Homo sapiens: one gene and its partner. The protein of the gene in region 1 interacts with the protein of each later gene in a pairwise test. Each region holds a gene or a part of one and is shown on either strand. Other genes may lie near its edges.

The links. The genes of interacting proteins can lie anywhere in the genome.
Region 2: the proteins of CCDC102B (region 1) and CEP57L1 interact in binary tests that used the Homo sapiens proteins (3 or more experiments, as listed by UniProt).

The regions. Positions count from the first base shown.
Region 1 is NC_000018.10:68,838,473-68,843,867, forward strand, and holds part of CCDC102B (coiled-coil domain-containing protein 102B), read left to right. Parts: intron 1-233; coding exon 234-454; intron 455-5,395. UniProt on the Homo sapiens protein: During interphase, forms fibers at the proximal ends of centrioles to maintain centrosome cohesion. During mitosis, dissociates from the centrosome following phosphorylation to allow centrosome separation. Contributes to CROCC/rootletin filament formation.
Region 2 is NC_000006.12:109,154,507-109,158,006, reverse strand, and holds part of CEP57L1 (centrosomal protein CEP57L1), read right to left. Parts: intron 2,778-3,500; coding exon 2,700-2,777; intron 2,217-2,699; coding exon 2,130-2,216; coding exon of another isoform or gene 2,118-2,129; exon of another isoform or gene 1,210-2,117; intron 1-1,209. UniProt on the Homo sapiens protein: Centrosomal protein which may be required for microtubule attachment to centrosomes.

The sequences.
Region 1 (5,395 bases):
AAGCAGAACTTTTGAGAAATGTATTTTTTTTATGAGAAAGTAGAACATAGAAAAAAACAAGCTCAAAGAAGAATGCAAGTAAGTGTGGCCACACAACACTTTCAGGGAATGATAATGAAATAAAAATATGAATTGGTTGTGGTATCGTAACATTTATTTCTTTATGAAAATGTTTTGTCATCATGATTTTTCTCCAGGAGGTTTAAATATGTTTTGTTTTGTTTTGTCTTCAGGAACAAGGTGTGGTTATTGATTCTCTAAAATTAAGTGAGGAGATGAAGCCCAATCTAGATGGTGTTGATTTATTCAACAATGGTGGTTCTGGAAACGGTGAAACGAAAACTGGGCTGAGACTGAAAGCAATAAATCTGCCTTTGGAAAATGAAGTAACTGAAATTTCAGCTTTGCAGGTGCATTTGGATGAATTCCAAAAAATCTTATGGAAGGAAAGAGAGTAAGTGCTAATCATTGTCTCCCTTAACCAAGTCTAAGTTTCAAATCACTTAAAATTGTTAATACAGATAGATTGGTCATTTGATAATGTATTTTATCCATGTTTAGTCATTAAGTTTTAGGATTTAAAGAAATTAGTTTGATATATATTCATATGTTGAATTTTAAAATGTAGTTTATAACTTGTTAGTGTTTTCCATTCTTTTAAGTTGACTTTTATCATGACTATGTTTTTATCTTCTCTGGTAGATTCACTTTAATTGTATATGAATTCTTAATGTACAAGGTTAAAATATCCAGTGTATTATTTAAGTTTGACAGCATCTTGGACTTGGTCAGTAAAAATGAATAAATATGTTAATATTAATAGTGGAAAAATCACAATTTTGTGAGATATTTATTACAGAAAAAGTAGTCTTATACATGGACCATTAAGGGCATCAGGCTTTTGCTTAATTGGCCTGGATATTCATCTTTGGTCTGATGTCTTCTAGCTATGTGATGTTGGCTGTTGCCCCTTTGTGAAAATAGCTGTAGTGCTGTTATGTTCCAGTTATCTATTATCTTGAAACAAACTTTTCCAAGTAATTATCATTAAAACATATCAACAGCAACCACCCTGTCTTCTGTTCAAGAATCGCGAGCATGGCTTGGCATGGACATTGTATCTCTCACTTGTGCCTTCAGTTGCAAGGGCTCAAAGGCTGGCAATGCATGGAAGGCTGGGGGCTGCAGCCTCTTTCACTCATATCTGGCAGTCCATCTCGGTTTTCATCTATGCCTCAGTTGGGACACCTGCACTGGGGCTATTTAAGGGGGTGCTTGGCTTCCTCACAACATTGGGGCTAGGTTGCAAGTGAACATCTTAAGAACACAGAGAGAAGAAAACGCCATTTGAATGATTCTGCCTCAAAAGTCAGACCCACTTATCGGTGGTGAGAATCTCAAAGTCTGACTCAGATTAAAGAGAGAGAGGCACTTTCAATGGAAGGAGTGTGAAAACAATTTTATAATAAGGGTGTGTGGGATGCAGTCATTGTGGCAACGATCTTTGCAAAATACAGTCTGTCATAGCCTTTCTCAGTGAATTCTCATAAAGATCAAGAACAAATAACATCTGGGAAAGAGAATAGTAATATGAAATGTTCAATATGGATTTTCGTTTCTATGCAATCAGCTTACAATTTTATTAGCACAATGTGGAATATCTAATATATAAATAAGGTTCCAAAATCTAAAAATAATTATTTTTTATCTCTTAGTTATAAAAATCTTAATAGGCAGAACCAGAAAAGCAAGAAGGATATGTATGCATATATACACACAATGTATTATATAAGTATATATTATATAACAGTTTTAATTTTCCTGGCTTGAATGGACTGAAATAGGGATAAATATGCATGCTAGCCATTCACAAATACAGTAAGTTCTTTACCACTTACTTTCTGCCAGAAGTTTCTCATTAGTCCCTCTGAAATTTACTAGTGCCACCAATTCCCTTTTTCAGATTCTTCATCTGTATTTCACTAGATTAGTAGATTGTGATCATACAAGTATCTATGTACAGAATAAATATTTATTACTCTACCAAGTGTAAATTCCTAATAGAGGCAACCAACATTAGTAGAAAACAGAATAAAAATGAATTTAATTTTTAGGCTCGTACACATAGTGACAATTTTATCTAGCCCTATACATTTCAGTCACATTCTAATCTCCGTGGTTTTACTTCTTGAAGCATTTAACTTTTTGGTAATTATAGACTTCTCTCCAGCCCACATACAATATTACTTCCCCAGTGCAGTCTAATAGGAGCAATGCAGAGCTGTGTTTTTCTAGATGTAAACTTCTATTCTAAGGTGTCAGTTTTAAAGATATGCATGTTCTGTCTTAACACGCTTATCCATATACATATACACAACATATACTTTTTACTTTCTTGGAATAAATGAACAATTCTCAGAGTAAGTACATTCTGCAGTTCTCAGTGACTTCAGTCTATAATCCATAGACAGGCCAAAGAATAAGAGAAAAAAGGAAGCTTTCCATGGCTTTGTCTTCCTACTCTCCTCTTTTAAGAAACAATCCCACGGACGTGATGAGTCATGGTTCCTGTGTCCATGAATCAACATTTGCATGCAATCCGCATGAGGCAATCAGTCTTTTTTTCTATCACAAGAGAACATTTTCCAAGAATATAGGATATGCTATTACTTATAAATCCATCTAATCTTTTAAATTCTTCTTCCTGGAATATCAGTGAGTGGGTGGCTTCGACTGAGATGTGAATGTATTTTTTTCTGCATTCCCATCTAGTGGGAAAATTCTCTTCTTGACTAGTGCACAGAAATCAACTCAGAAAACTCAGGGACTCATTTTTTTCCATTGTCCTTGACTAGAACCTCCTCATCAAATAGATGAAACTTTATAGTTTTCTTTGCACTCTGAGTACTGTTCAGTTTTATGAATAATTATCCAGTGTATAAAAGTTTCTCATATACTGAGAATTTATATATTTCTGTTGACTTTCATAAAGACTTCCCAGGTAGAAAATTTGGAGTAAGGCCAGGAAAGCTGATCCTCTTATAGGCCTATGTGTACCTAAACATTTGGGAAGCTGAGGTTTGGCAATACCAAATCTCAAGTAACAGAGACTGAGATAAAATAATTTGAACTGTCCCAAACTTCAGAATCAGTTTTCAAATTTCACTGCAGAGACCTCCTTTATCACTTGTAAAATGTTTGTTCTGTGTCCTTTAAGCTGAGCTTCAGTCCTCCCTTTCCATTTTATCATTTTATCTTTTTTTTCTTTTCTTTACTTTTTGAGACAGTCTCGCTCTGTTGCCCAGGCTGAAGTGCAGTGGTGCAATGTAAGCTCACTGCAATCTCAGCCTCCTGGGCTCAAGCCATCCTCCCACCTCAGCCTCCCAAGTAGCTGGAATTACAGGCTGTGCCACCACGCCTGGCTAATTTTTTATTTTTTTATTTTTAGTAGAGACGGGGTTTTGCCATATTGCCCAGGCTGGTCTCAAACTCCTGGCCTCAAGTGATCTAACCGCCTTGGCTTCCCAAAGTGCTAGGATTACAGGCGTGAGCCACTGCGCCCAGCCCATTTTGTCTTCTTAATTTATTTTCTATGTAAGAAAAGTAGCATGCTTCATTAAATGTTCAATTTTTTTCTTAATGAGATTTAAAATCCAGGTTAGAAGCTTCAGCAAATTAAAAATGCTACAAAGGATATTATTTTTTATATATGTATGAAAGACACAGATTTCTACTTTACATATTTAAGAAATTATATATATAAAGTATATATATATATATTCCTCAATGAATACATTGACATGCAAATCTGGTTAATACTATTTAATGTAATATTTGTAAATATTTGAAAATCAAGCTTATTTTGTTACTTTATTAACTGTCACTCATGGAATATTCAATAAACCTTTACCATTTTTTGACTCTCCAGTGTCTATTTTGTGTTTTGGCAATTCACTGCCAAATGAAACAGAGTCTACACCTGTGCATAGATTATAAAAATGCCAGTAAGTCTCTACCAGGGTTTCCTTTGCAATGAGGGTACAGACACTTGACTTAGGAATAGTGCATCAGAGGTGGCCACCTAGACTTTTAAGCCAAGCCAATACCGCAAGGCAATAGACAGCATCTAGAATCCATACCTAAGCGAGAAGCAGCAGCAATAAAGACAACTTGTTTCCAGAGGCAGCGGTGGCCTCTGGTGCTTAGTGACACCACTCACTGTCCCGTATTGGTGATCTTGAGGTCCCGCTGTGATGTCTCTACCTTAATGGTGGCCGAAATAGTGTGCTTACAGGAAGATTTTGATGGCTTTCTCATCAGTGTTCCTGGCTGCATGTATTCCCCAGAAATATTTTGAGCTATAATGTCAATTTCCGCTCAAATTTGCTAATTTGAATACGTTTGCTTGCCAGACACATATTACCAGGAGAGTGTAGAGGCAACAGACAGAGGAGGTTACAGGCAGTGGGGTCTTCATGGGACCAGTTTTGTGGCATGAGAGTTGGTCTTGGTCCCTGTCCGCTTCATCTGCAAGCCTTGTTCTATAATTCTCCTGGAGATCTGAGCTTAACAATATTCTTTAAACACTTATCTTTTCTAATTAAATTAACTGTATATGGCTTGGCTGTTTGCAACAGCCGAGTGCTAACACCCAGTGCTGAAAGATGTAATTATGAATAGTAGGAAGTGCAGTTGCAAAATGACATGTATGTTGCTTAAAGTATATTTGTAAAAACTTGTATTGTTAACAGTTTAATACTATCTCTAAATTTTGAACTGTTATAAAAATGAATAACTGCATGTTATTACAAGATAATCATTTGATTTGGTAAGAACATTTTTATATTAATACACCTTTTCAGAAAATCATGATTCAATTTTTTTCCAGTGAAATTTCACACAGTTCAACAATGATTAATATTTATTCCTAGATATTAATTTTTAGGACCTTTCATCTATGAGAAATATTTGAGTAATATTCTTGTCTAGAAATTTAAATTTTATTTCCAATTATTGTGGAATTGTGACAGTAAACAAAGTATCAAAAAATGCATAGAAATAAAATCACATCTTTTCATAAAAATAATTTTGGTTCACATTTTCTATTTTAGATTCTACAAATTTTATATACTTTAGCAATATTATTTTTTAAACTTTATATCATCATATTAAAGATACGACATTTTTGCTGAGCTTTGTCTTTTTAATTTCGTTCTCATGAAGAATGTGTACATAAACTATGCAACAATTTAGAGTAAATATTAGGTGTTTTCCTTTGCCTTCTTGTAGCTCAAATACTCTGACAATAATATACATCCCAATTATAAATTGAACTATATTATTCATCAATTTTGAAAATCTCTCTGAAACACAGAATAAAATGATTAGGCTAGAA
Region 2 (3,500 bases), on another chromosome or scaffold:
ACAGATTAGAGGTTGCCAATGTTCAGGGAAGGGGATGTGTAGCTATAGAGGGATTGCATGAAGGAGTTTTTTAGTGGTGGAAGAGTTCTGTATCTTGATTATTGTGATGGTGACATGAATCTACACATATGATTCTCTCAAAAATCTACACATCTGATTTCTCTCTTGTAAAACTCTCCTACTGCTGTCAGTTACCATCTAAAATTACAACTCTAATCATGTCCCTACTCTTCTCAGAAGCCTTCAATAGTTCCTGTTTATAGAATAAAAGTTCAAACTCTTAACATGGCATTCAAGGTCAGCCATTAGCTCACCCCAAGCTATATTTTCCATTTTAACTTTCATTATGATCCCATCTCACCCCCACTACTGGACTATTACTTATAGGTCCCTGGAAAAACCAACAATTCCCTCAGACTATAACACATTTTTCCTCATCTCAGTCTGTCAATATTTAATTCTTCAAGGCTTCCTTTAATATTGCTCTTGAATTACCTTTCACATATTCCTTTGTCTACACAGCACCACAACACTTTGTTTAAACCTCTATTAATCTTCTATTATACTGTTTTATACTTATATATTTATCTGTTTCTCACAAATTCCTGTCTTATCTTTTTATCACCTAGAGATACCAGTCTATGTACATCAAGATGTAAGAGTTGAATGAACTATGTCCAGGACATGGAGAAACAGTGTGATGGGAAGCAGATCTCTCATAGAGGCTTCTTGAAATCTGATCCTACTTTCAGCAACTTTAGCACTCCCTCCATCTTTAAAAAGAGACATCATTATTTGCATACCCCGTGAACTTGGGATTTGAACTAAGTACTTCCATAAAATGATTCTGCTGTTAATTACTCTCTTCTCTTCCAGTAGTTACCTTTTCTTTCCTTCATTTCTTTTATCTTCTCCCTGTACCTTCACTATTTTTATAATAAATAGGTAAACTGAAAAAAGTTCCATTAACCCATCAGAGAAAGGATGCCATAAAACATACATACTGGGCAGTATGTGTTCCACTGGCAAATTACTTATAGTGATTTTTCTATTTGGCTTTGTAGCTGTGAATCTCATTGCACAAATAAGACACAAAACAAATATTTAGGAAAGGAAAGAGCCAAAATAAGTCATATTGGGGAAATATTGTTCGTTATTGTAGTTTGAAAATTCTTTAAAATGAAAAAATTATGAAAAATACAGCCCAAGTATTGAACATTAATTTTTATTTACGTAATAAAAGAGTAGCCAAAGTTAAGTTTACTGTTCTCTCCATTATTTTATCCACAAGCTAAGCATATGGCAGTGGCCAGAATTCCCAAATAGCATCTCCTGTCCCCCACAACAAATGGCACAGAGAACACTCACTCCATTCATATCTGAATAAATAGTAATAATGGCCATCAAAACCATAATTCCACAATCATAAGATTAAAAGGGATTAAAAACTTTTTTCATACCATTATATATAATTAAGAAGGGTTACTTGAATAGCATACATTCAAAACATCAATCCATCTAAACAAAATATTGGTCTATAAAGTACTAACTCTCCAATCCTTACTTTTGGGCAAATTCACAAGAAATAAGCATAGAAATTACATATAACAATAAATTCCCTATATAAATGACTTTACAGACTTAACAGGTCTATAAGAAAAACCTTATTTTTTATTGTCTATATATTACATAAAACTGCTTTCAGGATTTATTATGTTGTCAGTATCTACTGTGTTGTTTACTGCCTCTTTTATAAACTATCACAAAATATGTTTCTCCAGAAGTTTAAAACTAGAAAAATGTTAATCTTTCTAGAAAAACTGGAGTGCTTCCTGTTATTTCACAAAGATAGCTATACTGTCCATTATATGTTCCTTTTTGCTTTGGTTGTCAAGCAAACTCAGAGCTAAATTTTGTACATGACTGCTGCTACTTTTTTTAACCTGAATCTTATGAAATTTTCTGTCCTTATACCCCAAACCATCATCCATTACTTGACACGCATTATTGCATGTCTTTTATTTTATATCTTCAAATCCTTTTTGGAAAGGGGTAGGTATAAGGATTAAGAGGTTATATAAATAAGTATTAGCAGTATTTTTGTTTGGGAAAAAATTTTATATGCACACCTTTGAAGATTTCTTCTTTTCCTTGGAGTGCTTTAGATTTGAAACTGAAGACATTATAATTTTACTGATTTCAAGTCCAGTTTGAAGCTGTAATATTTAAAAAAAAGGTTATAACATTGATTTGTAACATGCAAAAACACTGTAATGAGATATCAGGTCTAAGTTTATAAATATAAAAATGCTTTTTGGAGAAGAAAAGAAAAGAAAATCCAAGATACCGTTTTTGTACATGTGAAGGTCACTAAGTCTATTGGTAATTACAATAATTTTCTGTTTATAAAAGAATAAATTATTTAATATATGTACAGAAATCAAACTGAAAACAATCTATCCTAGGAGTTCCTTCAACTGAGAATATATGTATTTGTCAGAATTTCAAAAGATTAAAAAAGACCTCTTGGTAATACATCCATGTATCATACTGGCTGACTGAGAATTTCATTATTGTAACGAAAAGACAATTTAGGAAGCAGAAATTAGAATCTAGAACATAGGCTTCAGTTAATGAAAATAAAAATATAATAAAACATATATGGTTTACTGTGATAGATTATATAGTGCTATATTTACCTCAGAAGCTTTGTCTTGAAATAGCTTACGCTGATGTTCTTCTTCCTTAAGTTTTTCTTCTAAATGTTTAATCTTGTCCTGCAAAAGAGTAAAAACTAAGATTGTTACATAAAAACTAGAGCCAAATATCATTTGTTTCTTTTCCAAATAGAGTCCTAGGGGGTCTTGATTCTTAAGAGTTTGGCAAATTAAGGCAGAAAATAAGAAAAAGGAATGGCACAAGATGTTAAGATTTTTCTTGGCTTTCTTCCCACTTCTTTCTTTGCTTCTTTACCTTCTATTACATACAAGAAGAACAAAGGGAAAGCAAAGAATATACACACACACAGGCTTTATTAACTTCCAGCAACAAAATCATTATGATGAAACTTTTAAGGGTACTAAAGGTGTAGCAGGTCAAACAATTATAGTCTTGGGTCTCAACGTTTCATTCAAAACATAAAAAAAAAATTCTACTATTTGCATATATGTGATAAGAGTGTACTTTTGGGAGAAGAGTGAAAAGACATAATAGAAATATACAATGTGGTCCTTGTTACTTAAGAGCTTATACAGATTGAGGATCCCTTATCTTAAGTGTTTGGAACCAGAGATATTTTAGATTTTGGAATATTTTCATTACTGGTTCGGTATCCCTAATCCAAAAATTCAAAATCCTATATGCTCCAGTGAACATTTCTTCTGAACATTATTATTAGTGTTCAAAAAGTTTTGGATTTTGGAGTATATCAGATTTTGGATTTTTGGATTAAGGACACCCAACCTGTATTGTATGAAAAGAAAAAAAGAGCAATATTCATA